2 separate regions of the Homo sapiens genome follow, and region 1 is linked to region 2. The links come from fine-mapping of genetic effects on gene expression. Tissue or cell type: monocytes after R848. Region 2 holds a variant in brackets; the other region holds the start of a gene. All regions are shown on one strand. Distances are from middle to middle.

What was found. PIP is the estimated chance that this variant, and not a neighbour inherited with it, causes the effect.
Region 1: LIG1 starts here. The variant in region 2 is fine-mapped to the expression of LIG1 in monocytes after R848 (Quach 2016, PIP 0.95).

Annotation. Positions count from the first base shown.
Region 1 is chr19:48,166,848-48,174,847 of GRCh38, reverse strand. It overlaps LIG1 (DNA ligase 1), which reads left to right and starts at 4,504. Exons shown (of 28, transcript NM_000234.3): 1 at 4,504-4,607. It overlaps ZSWIM9 (zinc finger SWIM-type containing 9), which reads right to left and starts at 4,168. Exons shown (of 4, transcript NM_199341.4): 1 at 4,134-4,168; 2 at 2,771-3,054. The coding sequence starts at 3,045. RefSeq lists silencers at 3,976-4,115, 4,916-4,965, 4,996-5,065 and an enhancer at 4,363-5,022.
Region 2 is chr19:48,411,471-48,419,470 of GRCh38, reverse strand. It overlaps GRIN2D (glutamate ionotropic receptor NMDA type subunit 2D), which reads right to left. Exons shown (of 14, transcript NM_000836.4): 5 at 5,366-5,480; 6 at 4,887-5,098; 7 at 4,439-4,607; 8 at 3,316-3,469; 9 at 112-237. Among named protein-coding and RNA genes, the nearest start is that of GRIN2D, 22 kb to the right of the region's middle. RefSeq lists enhancers at 48-287, 38-804, 4,517-4,656, 4,362-5,083. The variant T/C (reference allele first, on the strand shown) is at 4,677.

The DNA.
Region 1 (8,000 bases), 240 kb after region 2:
CAATAAGCATTTGTTACATTGGAACTGGGTTCTGTTAATAGGTTTCAGATTAGGCCTGAGCTTCTTTGAGCTTCTTGCAAGCTCTAACGTTCTAGGTTTCTGGGTGATGTGTGTGTTTGATGCTGTTCCACTTTCAGATCTCCGAGTCTCTGTTTCTAGAATAAGTAGTGAGAAAGAAGTTGCAAGAATGTATTTCACAATACATGTTTAAATAACTACCGGTGAAAGAGCTGTTAAGAGTGTGCTTACTCTGTGCTGGATGCCTTTCTGAATAATTTACCTATGAGATAGACACTATTATGTCTCCCATTTTCCACATGAGGAAACTGAGGCCACAGAAAGGTGAAGTCACTCACTCAACAGCATCCACCAAGCATCAGCAGCACAATGGCCCAGAGTCCATGCTCTCGAATCCTGTAACAGCTATCACTTAACCAGCCACCCCATGTTCCAGGCACCAGGGTTATGTGTTTTTCTCATGTATGATCTCACAGTATCCTCACAATGGCCCCATGAGGCGGGTATCGTGATAACCCCATTTCAAAGGATGAGAAAACTGAGGCTTGGAGATGTGAAGTCCATTGCCCAAAGTCACCCATCCAGGAAGTCGTGGAGCATGTCTCAGGCAGCCTAAAGGCAGAGCCTGTGTTCTTAAGCACTCTGTTCTTGTCTACAGCTCCCCAACCAAGGGTCTCAAACTCACACACCTACTGGGACCAGGCAGGCAAAACAAGCAAAAGACAGTGCTAGGGATGAGGCAGCAGAGAGTGGCAGGGTTTGGGGCAAACCTGGGCAGCAAAGCCCCATCCAAGAGGGGTGGCCGTCTGCCAATGGAAACATGGGCTCACCTCTTCCGGTGTTCCAGTGGAAGCTGGAAACCTAACTGTGTGGGGAACAACCCCTGTTTAAAACTGGGGTCAGACCAGGCACCGTGGCTCACACCTGTAATCCCAGCACTTTGGGAGGCCAAGGCAGGCAGATCACCTGAGGTCGGGAGTTCAAGACCAGCCTGGCCAACATGGTGAAACCCTAAAAATACAAAAATTAGCTGGGCATGGTGGCGCATGCCTGTAATCCCAGCTACTGGGGAGGCTAAGGCAGGAGAATTGCTTGAGCCCAGGAGGCTGAGGTTGCAGTGAGTGGAGATTGTGCCACTGCACTCCAGTGTGGATGGCAGAGCAAGACTCCGTCTCAAATAAAATAAAATAAAATAAAGTAAAATAAAATTGGGGTCAATTTGGCTGGGTGTGGTGGCTCATGCCTGTAATCCCAGCATTCTGGGAGGCCGAGGTGGGCAGATCACCTCAGCCTCCTTGAGGTCAGGAGTTCGAGACCAGCCTGGCCAACATGGTGACACCCCATCTCTACTACAAATACAAAAATTAGGTGGGCATAGTGGCACACACCTGTAGTCCCAGCTACTTGGGAGGCTGAGGTGGGGGAATCTCTTGAACCCAGGAGTTGGAGGTTGCAGGGAGCCAAGATCGCACTACTGCTCTCCAGCCTGGGCAACAGAGTAAGACCCTGTCTCAAAAAAATAAAGACTAAATAAAATACAATTGGGGTCCATTAAAATACCCCTGGCCACCTGGGTGTGATTCTGGCTCTCCTGGATTTCTCACCTGCCCCTCTTTGCACAGTTGTAGGGAACTACCTGTGAGCTTGTTCTTTTAACGTCAATCTTTCTGTCCAGTCAGAAAGTACCAGAAGGGCAGGGATTTTTGTCTCTTGCCCAACTCCATCGCTCCAACTAGAATATCCCCAGCCCACAGCATGGGACCTGGCCCCTTATTCACTGAATAGATGGATCCTTTTCTTTATCCTGCGGCTTCTCTGCAGTTCAGTCTCCCAGTCTCTGTCTCCCAGTCTTTGTCACGTGTACAAAACCTGGCTCTTCTGTTTCCCTGGCTGTCTCTGGTGTCTCTGCCTCCATGTCTCCATGTTTCTGGAATTTTCCGTGACTATTTTCTCCTCTTGGGGTGTGTGTGTTTTACGCTCTGCCTCTCGAAGTCTCTATTACATTCTGTAAGTCAGGCCGGGCACAGTGGCTCGCGGCTGTAATCCCAGCACTTTGGGAGGCAAGACGGGCAGATCACCTGAGGTCATGAGTTTGAGACCAGCCTGGCCAACATGGTGAAACCCCATCTCTACAAAAATCCAAAAATTGGCCAGGCGTGGTGGCGCGTGCCTGTAATCCCAGCTACTCAGGAGGTTGAGGCAGGAGAAACAACGCTTGAACTCGGGAGGTGGAGGTTGCAGTGAGCCGAGATTGTGCCATTGCACTCCAGCCTGAGTGACAGAGCAAGACTCTGTCTCAAAAAAACAACACAAAGCAAAACAAAACAAAAACAAAAACAAAAAACCACACAAAAATTAGCCGGGCATGATGGCAGGTGCCTGTAGTCCTAGCTACTCGGGAGGCTGAGGCGGGAGAATCACTTGAACCTAGGAGGTGGAGGCTGCAGATGGCACCACTGCACTCAAGCCTGGGCGACAGAGCGAGACTCCATCTCGAAAAAAAAAAAAAAGTCTGTAAGTCGGGCCCACACCATCTCTTGCTCCGTGAGTATCTTTGTCTCTCTAGCTCCTCTTCTTCTCTCAGTACATGTCCCTCCTTGACTCCCGCCTCTCTGCAAGGTGTATTTGGCTGCCTCAGTTGGCCTCTCCCCCTCTGCATCTCTGGGTGGGGTGTTCTCTGCCCGTCTCCCACCCACACCCACCCCCGGTGCTCCCCTTCCCCCCAGCAGGACAGCGGCTCAGGTTCACGCACCCCACGGCGGGCCGGCTGGGCGCACGCACGTCCTTGCACACAAGCCGCACGTAGCTGTACTTGAGCACGTCGATGAGCGTGTAGAGCGGGGGCGCACTGGCCCAGCGGCAGCGCGCCAGGTGCATGGAGCTCTTGACGAAGAAGAGCGCCAGCCGCTGCTGGCACCACGCGTCGAAGAAGCGGCTGAACTCGGCCCACGAGAAGAAGGCCCGCTCCCGCAGCTCCTGCTCCTCCTGCCCCGCAGCCGTGCCGGGTGGGGGCTCCGGCCGCTCCATCCTGGGGGCCTGCGTGGAGGAGGGGAGAACAGGTGGATATCAGACCCATTCCCACCCGGGGTATCTCATCTACTCCATTCTTGGCCTGCCCCGTCGGTTGCTGGTGCCTCTATCGAGGTGGGTAGCCCGGGGTCGGACGTGCCTGTTTTTCTCCAAATATATAAATATCAACCTCCATCCTATCTTTGGCCTCCTCCCACCGCCTTATCCCTGGTTCACTTGGAGCCTGTCATCTTGATTCCTAATTCCAACTCGTCTCCTCCTCCGCAGATGTGACCCTTAGGTACAGTTGGAATCTCTCCTCCCAAAATACGACCCTTAAGCTCAGATGTCCCTTAAGGACATCTCCTCAAATGTGTTCTCAAATTCCAGCTAAAACCTCCTCCCCTTCCAGCTGTGTCTCTCACCCAAGAGTAACTTCTAACTCTCGTATTCATCTGGAACTCCTCCTTCCATGTGCCAACAGTTGGCTGTAACCCCTCCAAAGACGCTCCATCTCCAGATGTGCTCCCACATCCAGGCCACGGACCCCTCACCCGGTCACATGCTTCATGCACCTGTGGCTCCGCACTCCCCAGATGTGCCTCTGGCGTGCAGCTGTTGCCCCTTCCCCCGATTATGACCCTATGGCTCGCCACATGCAGCTGTAGCTGGGGCTTCCCTGAGACACTCTCATCTCCAGATGTACTCCCCACATGCAGTTATCCACGCTTCGCCTACAGGTGTGTGCCCCACTTGTGGCTAGTTCTCCTCGGAAGTGTCACCAGTATTCACCTGTGGTCCCCTCCTCCTCAGATGCGGCCCCCAGTCCAGCTGTGGGCCCCTCCTCCCAGTTACATCCACCATCCCCCGCAATATGCATCTTCGTTCTAGACATGGCCCCTCGTCCTCGGATGGGCTCCTTCACCCCAGATGCTCCCCCCACGTCCAGCTGCGCGTCTCCCCTCGAGCAGCCCCATCCAGCCCGCTCCCGACCCTCCTACTCCCCCCCTCCCCGCCCGCTGCGGCACCTTCCAGCCCCGCCGTCCCACCTAGCTGTGCCTCTCCCCTCCCCAAGATGTGCACCCTTCCCGCCCCTCCCCACTCACCTACCCGCCCCGGAGCGGCGTCCACCTCCCACAATGCCCCGCGCCCAGGCCTGGCCCGGCCCTTGCTCCCGGGATGCCCCGCGCGGTCTCCCGCCTCTCTTCCCGCCGTGCCTCGCGGGGGCGCTTCCACCGATTCCTCCTCTTTCCCTGCCAGTCACTCCTCAGACCCTCAGCCACACCCGCTCATCCAGGGCGAGGGAAAGCGCGGGCATTTTCCCAGTGTGCTCTGCGGGAGGGCTCGCCCCACTTCACCCCTTTTCCCGCCCTCCTCCCATTCGGGAGACTACGACTCCCAGTGTCCTCCGCGCGACGGCGGCGGTGCGGACGGTGCCCAGGTCCCGCCCCTAGGCTCTGCCCCGCCCCCGCCCGCAGACGTCTGCGCGCGAATGCCGTGGCGCGAACTTGGGACTGCAGAGGCGCGCCTGGCGGATCTGAGTGTGTTGCCCGGGCAGCGGCGCGCGGGACCAACGCAAGGCAAGTGGGGCCGTCCGCAAGCAGATGGGAGGCGGAGGGCGGCGGGTGCGCCGAATGCTTGGGGCCTATGCTTCGCCATGTCGGGGTGTCTGCAGAGGAGTGGGCGTGGGGACGCTGAGGCTGCCGAGAGCGCGGTGGAGACGGAAGAGCGCGGGCTGCGGGCCGCCGGAGAGTGCAGAGAGGTGTCTCCCAGAGGGAGGGGGGCCAGGTAGAGGGTAGACGAGAGACAGAGACAGTTGGACAGGTCCTCTGAGAAGAGGCCTTGAGGTGCGAGTTCACCTGGAAAGGGGAGAGGCCAAATGGAACTGAGGGGCGGGGCCGGGGGGGGGAAAACTGTGTGGGCGGGGCCAGCTGGAAATCGGAAGGCCCCCCGAGGGGGCGGGGCTATCTGGGAGGGGGAGGGGCTGAAGGGAGCTAAGGGGCGGGGCCGGGGAAAAGATTGCGTGTGGGCGGGGCCACCTGGAAGGGGGAGGTGCCAAGGGTGGGGCTGGCTGGGAACCGGAAGTGCTGAGGGGGCGGGGGCCACCTGGAAGTGCTGAGGGGGCGGGGCTAGAAGAAGGTAAATCGCGGGCAGCAGCATCACCTGGAAGGAGTGGGCCCTACTGGAGGGAGATGGGTGGTGTCAGGGAGAGGTCAGTGGTAAGGTCCAGGTCTAGGTAAAGGGCTCGTAAAAGATGGAGAATCATCTGAATGGGGAGACGTCTGGCCTAATGTATGCTTGATAAAGGGATGGAGCTTACCTCTTGTTTTTACTTTTTATTTTGAAATAATTATAGATTCAAGGAAGTTGTGAAAAGAGTATATCCATCTTCCCCTAATGGTGACATCTTATGTAGTCCCAATATCGAAACCAGGAAATTGACATCAATACAGTTCTGTTAACTAGATTACAGACCTTGTTCAGTTTTCACCAGTTTGTGTGGTGTGAGTGTGATTGTGCATCTGTGTGCCCGTGCAGCTTGATTCCTTGTATAGATTTGTGTAACCCCCATCGTAATTGTGATATAGAACAGTTCCCTCTCCACATAAGAACTCCTCCCCAGGCCCCTGGCAACCGCTAATGTGTTCACCATCTCTAGTTTTGTCATTCGGAGATTGTTATGTAAATGGAATCATATATTATTAGGATGTTACCTTTTTTCTACTCTGCACAATGCCCTGGAGGTCCACCCAAGTTGTTGCTTGTATCAGTGCTTCGTTTCTTTTTATTACTGAGTACTGTTTCATCCTTACTTGATATTTTTCCTGTCATTATCTCTTCATTTTGGTAACCGCTTTATTGAGATATAATTCACAATTATACAGTTTGCCCATTTAAAGTGTACAATTTTGCCCATTTAAAATGTACAAGTCAGCGGTTTTCAGTGTATTTAAAGTGTATTTCAGTGTATTTAAAGTGCCCATTTAAAGTGTACAAGTCAGTGGTTTTCAGTGTATGCGCTGAGTTGTGCAGTTATTACCATAATCGATTTTAGGATATTTTTATCATCCCCCCAAAAAACTCCTATACCTTTTATCCATCATTCATTTAATTTTAACCCTGAACAATATTCTACCATATGGTATTCCAGTAATGAGGGAACCAGTTCCCTAAGGGTAGACATTCCACCAGTTTCCAGTCTTCTCTCATTACAGTTAGTGCTGCAGCAGGTAACTTTGTGCCTCACTTGGTCCACCTGTGAGGGTCTCTGTGGGCCAAATACACAGAAGTGGGGTTGCCGTTCCGATAGAGACGCCAGGTGGTCCTCCAGAGGCATCAACCAGTTTGTTCCCCCCAACTCAGCAGTACACAGAGTTGAGAAGCCAGCCTTGAGTACCGTGGTAAGGAGAAAGGAACGTGGGCTTTGGAGCCAGCCACACCGGGTTTTGAAGCCTTGCCTGAACCCCAGCTATGTTCCTCTGTCCTCATTACCTTCATCTATAAAGTGGGGATGATCTCACCTGTCTTGGAGGGCTGACTTGAGGATTGAGGGTATTTGAGAATGTGATCAGCCTGTCAGGCATAGAGTAGGCTTCCCAGTAAACGCTTATGTATTTCTCCTTCCCTTGCAACTCAGTCTGGTGGTTAAGAGGTGAGCTGTGGAGCAGGCCGACCTGGGGTGGAACGTACTATAGATGCAGGTTAAGTTCCTTTGAAAACCCCTCTGTGCCTTAGTTTCTGTAACAGAGTTGTTGTGGAGAGTCAGTATAATTGAGAATGTCAAGTACCTAGGCAGTTGAGCACTCAGGAGGGATCGTAATAGTTTTCTCCTTTGCCCTCAGGATTTTGGTGGCTAAGTCCCTAACCTGCTTTCTGTGTGAACTGTTTGGTTGAAGCATTGCTTACTTCCTGCTCCCCAACTGGCCCTGAGAAACTCTGTTTGGAAATTGCTGAGTTTCTTTTTTGTTTGTTTTTTTTTTTTTTTTTTTTTTTTTAAGACGGGGTCTCGCTCTGTCGCCCAGGCTGGAGTCCAGTGGTGCAGTCTCAGCTCACTGCAACCTCTGCCTCCTGGGATCAAGTGATTCTCCTGCCTCAGCCTCCTGAGTAGTTGGGATTACAGGCTGGCACCACCATGCCTGGCTAATTTTTTGCATTTTTAGTAGAGATGGGGTTTCACCATGCGGGCCAGGCTGGTCTTGAACTCCTGACCTCGTGATCCGCCTGTCTCAGCCTTCCAAAGTGCTGGGAGTACAGGCGTGAGCCACAGTGCCGGCCTACTGAGTTTTTTGATTCCAAAATTGAGTTTGAGTTGTGGTGCCAACATGTGGCGGCCAAGGCTGTAGAGAGTAGTGGAGACTTAGAGGCGTGTGGTGCGGGACAGAGAGTACTGATTCCAGAAAACGAAAGGGGACCCCATGGGTTGAAGAAGATTTCTGTGCAAAGGAAGGGAAAGTCAAAGAAAACCATTTCTGTTGCCCAGGCTGGTCTGAGCTGGTCTCAACTCAAGCAATCCACGCAGAGGTCCTGCTAGTCCTTTTTTAAAAAATATATTCATAGTGGAAGGAAATATAATGTAAATAATTATAATTACATAATTATAATGTGTAATTTATTTTCTTCCATTATAAATATTAAAGATATAGAAAATTTATAATTTTTTATATCTTTAATATTTATAATGGAAGGAAAGGCTCAGTTCCAATTAGAAGTTTACAAGAATAAAGTCGTAATTTCTTTCCTGTCAAATTTCATAGACCACTTGAGTTCTGCTCTTGGACTCCTGGGTTTTGTGGACCCCAGATTAAGAACCCTTTCTTTTCTTTTTCTTTTTCTTTCTTTTTCTTTCTTTTTTTTTTTTTTTGAGACAGAGTGTTACTCTGTTGCCCAGGCTAGAGTGCATGATCTCACTGCAACCTCCACTTCCTGGGTTCAAGTGATTCTCCTGCCTCAGCCTCCCCACTAGCTGGGATTAC
Region 2 (8,000 bases):
CCGAGAGGCCCTAGCTTGACCGCCCCCCCTCCAGGGGCTGCTGGGAAATGTAGTTCTCTGTCTCTGTGGTTCGGGATCTCCGAGGCGGGGGATGGAGGAAGGGGGACTCACGCTTGCCCGTGGCCAGGCTGCGGTTGTAACCAACAGGACTGAGGTACTCGAAGATGAAAACAGTGACGGCGACCACAGTGAGGCACATGACGAACATCATCACCCACACGGCGGGGCTGTAGGGCTCTGGGGACAAGGGAGTGCGTGGTTATGGCTCAGCCAAGCAAAAGACTCGGGGATCAGGCTGGGGCGGTGCCTCACGCCTGTACTCCCAGAACTTTGGGAGGCTGAGGCAGGAGGATCACTTGACGCCTGGAGTTCAAGACCAGACTGGCCTTGAACTCCCTGTCTCTACAAAAAAAAAAAAGGAAGAAAAAAGAAAGAAAAAAAACCCTAGGGTACTACCAGCAGGGAACAAGGTGCAGCCCAGATCTGACCCCATCCTATTCTGGCCCTATCTCTGCTTCTCCATCTCCAAGATAGTCTTATGGCACACCCATACCCCTAGGAGGCAGCCATTCTCAAAGAGAGCCGTCGCAGGCATTTCTGTGGTTTCAGCCACCAAATAGAAACTGTCTCCTAAATGTTTCCTGAGTCACAGGCCCAAGCCTCCACCTACCCCAGCCATCTCCTCAGGCCATTCATCATGTCCCATGCTGAGCCCAGACCAGCTCCCACGCTCCTCATGATGGGAGCCCCACCATCCACCCAGTCACAGGCCCAAACCTCATTTGCCGTCCTCCCTTCCTCCCTCCTTCTCCCTCGCTGGCCACAGCCTGTCAGTATCCAGCCCCACGCTCCTGCCCCTGATGCTACTTGGGCCTCTCCTCTCCATTCTCATGGCCAACAGGGCTCAGGCCTCATCTCCTCCCACCAACCATTTCCCCAGCCTCCTGAGCTCCTGTCTGTCCCCTACAGCCTATCCCCCACACAGCACAGAGAGGACCTGGCCCCTCCCCTGCTTACAGCCCTCCCCAGGCTCCCTAGCACCCCCAGGACAAAGTCCCTGCCACTCAGCCTTGTCACACTCTCCTTTCTGTCCTGATCACTCTCTCAAGCACCCATGCTTTACTCAAAACTCACAGGTGGCTGGGTGTGGTGGTTCACGCCTGTAATCCCAGTACTTTGGGAGGCCGAGGTGGGAGGATCACCTAAGGTCAGGAGTTCAAGACCAGCCTGGCCAACATGGTGAAACCCCATCTCTACTAAAAATACAAAATTAGCTGGGTGTCGTGGTGGGCGCCTGTAGTCCCAACTACTCAGTAGGCTGAGGCAGGAGAATTGCTTGAACCCAGGAGGTGGAGGTTGCAGTGAGCTGAGATCGTGCCACTGCACTCCAGCCTGGGTGACAGAGCAAGACTCTGTCTCAAAAAAAAAAAAAAAAAAGAACTCGCAGGTGCCTGAATCAGCGACACCCTCTCTTCCTTGTCTCCTAGGTGTCCCTGCTAGAGTTAACACCCTGCCCTGTCCATTAGACAACCTCCCATTCATGTGTCCCCTCCTCACATTCGATAACTGTGTTTAGCCCCTGGGAGCTCACCAACAATAAACCCAAATCACCATTTCATTGAGATTAGGACCAGGTGATTCAACTTTCCAGGGCCAAGTGTGAGCTGTCAGGACTGCCCCCGTCACAGCAAGGTCAGCACCCTGGACTGTCACTGCGGCAGCTGGGGACACGCCTGTCACCTCTGCTGGGCAACTTGGTGGGGCATAAATAGGACCTTGTCACTCCTCTGCAGTGTGCTGCCTGCAAGCAGGGGCCCCACGTGGTGCTTCTCAGTGTGCCCTGCAGAGACCTTGGTGCAAAGGGGAGGCCACAGGAGACACCACTGGGCGAAATAAACAGAAAACAAAACACAAAGGAAGGGATGGCTCTTCTTCCAGCCCCTCCCCTCTCCCAGGAGCTTTGCTCACACTTCAGAGAGCAAGTGGGAACTGACAAGCACTGTTGCCCTTGGCCGATGTACGCTTCTCCAGCTCAGCAATGGTCCCTCTACCCAATCCATCTCAAAGCCACCAGCCCATCTGGTGGGCAGCTCTCTAACCACACCCTGCATCTGTCTGCTGTCACCTTCCTATTGCACACCCCCACTCTGTCTCTGGCATAAACCTTGCAGTAGCATCCCCACCAGCCACTTGCTTCCACAGAGTGGGATTTTTTTCTTTGTTCTTTTTTAGAGATAGGGTCTGGCTCTGTCATCCAGGCTGGAGTGCGGTGGTGCCATCTTGGCTCACTGCAACCTCTGCCTCCTGGGTTCAAGCCATCCTTACACCTCAGCCTCCGGAGTAGCTGGGATTACACAGAGCTGGATATTTTAAAAACTTAAATCTGATTATATATCCCCACACCATCTTCTGTAGTTAAAACCCTTGTCCGGGTGCAGTGGCTCACGCCTGTAATTCCAGCATTTTGGGAGGCTGAGGTGGGCAGATCACCTGAGGTCAGGAGTTTGAGATTAGGCTGGCCACCATGGTGAAACCCCGTCTCTACTAAAAATACAAAAATTGGCCAGGCGTGGTGGTGCATGCCTGTGATCCCAGTTACTTGGCAGGCTGAGGCAGGAGAATCGCTTAAACCTGAGAGGCAGGTTGAGGTTGCAGTGAGCCGAGATGGTGCCACTGCATTCCAGCCTGGGCGACAGAGTGAGACTCTGTCTGAAAAAAAAAAAAAGAGAGAGAGAGAGAGAAGTAGAAGCTTATCTTCTGCCTCCTTCACAAGGCTGAGAGATCCTACTGGACAGGGATTTGTGTCTTCCTCATTTGCCACTGTGTTCCCAGTGTGGAGCCCACCACCTGGCACATAGTAGATGCTCAGTAAACACTGATGGTGACTTAAGTGCTTACAAGGTATTGGTACCATGCTAATTTGTTCTCTTCATCTCATACCTAGTACAGGAAAACACTTGGGTTTTGTGGGGCCTGAAGCTTGCACAATTTGGAGGGCTCTCTTTGAGAAAAAATAATTCAACCTTATGAATACAAAACCAGGTGCAGGGCTTGGAAGCTGCAGTGCAAGAGAAGGCTCCTGAGCTCAAGCTTCTTTAGCCTCTTGATGAAATGTCTTCTGGGTAGGGAAATTATTTCTTCCATCTTGTAGATTAGGAAACTGAGGTTCAGAAATGATGTCACTTCACCGAAGTTGCACAGCGGGTTCAAGTACCGATGATACCGGGAACCCAGGTTTTCTGATCCCAGGGCCCACACGGTTGGGGACGGCTACTTTGCCTAGGGCTAGCTCCCTGTCCCAGGGCCCCAGATTACCGAGGAAGGCCGAGGGGGACACCGTGCCATTGCTGCGCGCCACCATGACGCTGATGCCGGTCTCCACGAAGGGGACGGAGAAGTCCACGATCTCGGAGCGCTCCTCGTTGATGGTGAGGGAGCCGATGGCCATGTCTGCGCGCTGGTAGAACACCTGGGGTGGGGGCGATGAGGAGTGGGCGGGGGAACCCGGCTCAAGCGGACAGACTGACACGGACGGCGAGCAGAGACGGGCCCCGGGAGCAGACCAGTGACAGGGTGAGGGAAGGGGCCAAGAGGGATTGCGAGGTGGGTGAGGAGGGGGACGAAGAGTGGGGCAGGGAAGGGCGGAGGTGAGAAATGGGGAACAAGATTGGGAATTGGTAGCCCGCGTCCTACCCGGCTGCTCCCAGCAAGACCTCAAGGCCTTGGTCCAGATCTTCCCAGCCCCACCCTCTTCCCCTAGATTCTCACCCTCCTGGCCCCTCCTCCTCTGTACCAAAGTCCCTCCTCCCAGCCCCGCCCCCTTCCCCTAGGAGTCCCACCCTCCTAGCCCCGCCTCCACTGCCCCAAAGTCCCTCCTCCCAGCCCTGCCCCCTTCCCCTAGGAGTCCCACCCTCCTAGCCCCGCCTCCTCTGCTCCAAAGTCCCTCCTCCAAACCCCGCCCCTGACACCTCCTGACCCCGCCCCCTGTTCCAAGGCATGTCCCTCCCGCGACCCCGCCCCAGGCCCCAATCAGGTGTTTCCTCAATTTGGCCGCGCCCCTGCCCCAGGGTGCCGACCTCTTTTTTTTTATTATTATTTTTTGAGACTGAGTCTCACTCTGTGCCCAGGCTGGAGTGCAGTGGCGCGATCTCCGCTTACTGCAACCTCCGCCTCCCGGGTTCAAGCAATTCTCCTGCCTCAGCCTCCCGAGTAGCTGGGATTACAGGCGCCCGCCACCACGCACGGCTAATTTTTTGCATTTTAGTAGAGACGGGGTTTCACCGTTTTGCCCAAACTGGTCTCGAACCCCTGAGCTCAGGCAATTCGCCCGCCTCGGCTTCCCAAAGTGCTGGGATTACAGGCGTGAGCCACCACGCCCGGCTGTGCCCGCCTCTCGACTCCGCCCCGAAGATTCCCCGCCTCCCGTCCGCCCCCTCACCTCCCCGATCATGCCGTTCCAGACGCCATCGATCTTCTTTCCGTGCTTGCCATTGGTGACCAGGTAGAGGTCGTAGCTGAAGCCGATGGTATGCGCCAGCCGCTTCAGAATGTCGATGCAGAAACCCTTGCAGCAGCGCTTTTCCGGGCGGGGGGCATCCGGTGGAGGGCTGCGGGCAGTGACCAGGCTTGGGGAGTTTGGGGACCCCCTCCTTAGACTCTCTCATGAAGAGAGGATA[T/C]GGAGGAAGGGATAGGCGGCAGCTAAAACTATGGTTAGCGCTTTCAGGGGAAACTCAGGCTCAAAGAATTCTGAGGTTTGCCTAAGGTCACCAAGCTGGAGGGCTTTGTGGGTCCTGGGTCCCAAGGGAGGAGGGGGCTGGGGGCCCAGACTACTGGGCTTCACGGGAGGCGGGTTTTGGAGCCGGAACTCCTGGATCCCGAGCTGTCACCTGTGGGTTCGGTTGAGCTGGCTCCGGCAGGGGACGGAGTCTCGGATGCAGGTGCCGCTGATAGGGTCTGCAGGCTCCACGATGACAAACGGCCTTTCCTCCAGCGTGGCCACCGTGAGGTGCTGCGTGTCGTCCACTGGCTGCAGGAAGCGACCATAGCGGGACCACAGCGGGTACTTGAGGCGGAGCGTCTGCTGCTCCCAGCTGCCCACCTTGGCCAAAGGGAAAGAGAGTCAGGCTTCCTGGGAAGACTTCCCGGTGTATCCTGGCCTCCATGATCCTCTTCCCTCAGACCTAGGTGTGTGGGCAGCAGCTTCTTCCAAGACCCAGGAGCCCCTCCCACCTTCAGATCCCAGGACCCAGGAGTCCAGGCTCCTTGTCCCCTCCTCCCTCTTAGTCCACGACCTCAAGCCCCCCCTCTGCCAGGATGCAGGAGTCCACACCCTCTGCCATGCCTGAGGTCTGGGGCTACGACTCACCACCTCCCACGTCCTGTCTCTGGTGAGGGAGATGACCACCAGGGAGGGGTTCACTAGGAAGCCGTCCTCATTGAAGGAGTAATCCCGGTTATCCCACGTGATGTTCATGAAGTACCTGCCCAGGAGGAGGGAAAGGGGACATGCTGGGGCCTGGGCTGGACCTTGGCAGCGGAAGGCAGAGAAAGTCCCCTTTCTGCAGACCAGCCCCAGCCCCCAGCTGGAATCTCTCTTCTTTTACCTCCAAGGTCTCAAAAACACGAATATACCCCTTCCCTGCTCAGCACCCTCCCCTTGGCTGCCCAGTGCCCCCCAGGATAAGGTTCCAGACTCTCTTTCAGCTTGGTGTTGAGGCCCTAGAGTCCCCTTTTCTTTCCTTCTTTTTTAAAGTAGAGATGGGGTTTCACTATTTTTCCCAGGCTGGTCTTTTTTTTTTTTTTTTTTTTTGAGACAGAGTCTTGCTCTGTCTCCCAGGCTGGAGTGCAGTGGTATGATCTTGGCTCACTGCCACCTCCACTTCCTGGGTTCAAGTGATTCTCCTGCCTCAGCCTCCCAAGTAGCTGGGATTATAGACATGCACCACCATGCTTGGCTAATATTTTGTTTGTTTTTGTTTTTGTTTTGTTTTTTGAGACAGAGTCTTGCTCTGTCACCCAGGCTGGAGTGCAGTGGCATGATCTTCGCTCACTGCAACCTCCGCCTCCTGGTTCAAGCAATCCTCCTGCCTCAGCCTCCTGAGTAGCTGGGATTGCAGGTGTTCACCACCATGTCCAGCTAATTTTTGTATTTTTAGTAGAGATGGGGTTTCACCATGTTGGCCAGACTGGTCTAGAACTCCTGACCTCAGCCTCAGTGATCCACCTGCCTCAGCCTCCCAAAGTGTTGGGATTACAGGCATGAGCCACCATGCCCTCTTTCTTTTTTTTTTTTTTTAATGTGTGGTTTTTTTGTTTGTTTTTGTTTTTGTTTTTTGAGACAGAGTCTTGCTCTTGTTGCCCAGGCTGGAGTGCAATGGTATGGTCTCGGCTCACTGCAACCTCCGCCTCCCGGGTTCAAGCAATTCTCCTGCCTCAGCCTCCTGAGTAGCTGGGATTGCAGGTGTTCACCACCATGTCCAGCTAATTTTTGTATTTTTAGTAGAGATGGGGTTTCACCATGTTGGCCAGACTGGTCTAGAACTCCTGACCTCAGCCTCAGTGATCCACCTGCCTCAGCCTCCCAAAGTGTTGGGATTACAGGCATGAGCCACCATGCCCTCCTCTTTCTTTTTTTTTTTTTTTTAATGTGTGGTTTTTTGTTTGTTTTTGTTTTTGTTTCTTGAGACAGAGTTTTGCTCTTGTTGCCCAGGCTGGAGTGCAATGGTGTGGTCTCAGCTCACTGCAACCTCCGCCTCCCGGGTTCAAGCAATTCTCCTGCCTCAGCCTCCCGAGTAGCTGGGATTACAGGCGCCCACGACCATGCCCGGCTAATTTTTTGTATTTTTAGTAGAGACAGGGTTTCACCATGTTGACCAGGGTGGTCTCGAACTCATGACCTCAGGTGATCCGCCCGCCTCAGCCTCCCAAAGGGCTGGGATTACAAGCGTGAGCCACCGCGCCTGGCCTGGCCCGCCTCTTTCTTTCTCTCTCTTTCTTTCTTTCTTTCTTTCTTTCTTTCTTTCTTTCTTTCTTTCTTTCTTTCTTTCTTTTCTTTCTCTTTCTTTCTTTCTTTTCTTTCTCTTTCTTCTTTTCTTTTTTTTAAATTTTTATGTATGTATGTATGTATTTATTTATTTATTTTTGAGACAGAGTCTCGCTCTGTCGCCCAGGCTGGAGTGTAGTGGTGCGATCTTGGCTCACTGCAAGCTCCACCTCCCAGGTTCACGCCATTCTCCTGCCTCAGCCTCACAAGTAACTGGGACTACAGGCACCTGCCACCACACCCAGCTAATTTTTTGTATTTTTTTTAGTAGAGACGGGGTTTCACCGTGTTAGCCAGGATGGTCTTGATCTCCTGACCTTGTGATCCGCCTGCCTCGGCCTTCCAAAGTGCTGGGATTACAGGCATGAGCCACCACGCCCAGCCTCTTTTTTTTTTTAAGTAGAGATAGGGTCTCACTACTTTTCCCAGGCTGGTCTTGAACTCCTGAGTTCAAGTGATCCTCCCACCTCAACCTCCCAACATAGTGGGATTACAGGTGTGAATCACTGTGCCAGGCCCCTAGAGTCTGTTTTTGTTCTGGCTTTGCCTTCCTCTGAAGCCGCATCTCTGAGAGTTCCCACCCTCAAACTTCAAACTCTTTTCACCCCAAAATTCTTTTTTTTTTTCTCTATCAACACTGGCTTCAAGGTGTCTCCCAAACATGTCAAGTGATTTCTTATCTCTAGGACTTTGCAGATGCTGTTCTCTCTGCCTGAAAAACCTTATACCACCCCTTATCCTGACCAACTATTCTTCTTATTTATTTATTTATTTATTATTGAGATGGAGTCTTGCTCTGTCACCTAGGCTGGAGTGCAATGGTGCAATCTCAGCTCGCTGGAACCTCCGCCTCCCAGGTCCAAGCGATTCTCCTGCCTCAGCCTCCTGAGTAGCTGGGATTACAGGCAAGCACCACCGCGCCTGCCTAATTTTGTATTTTTAGTAGAGACAGGGTTTC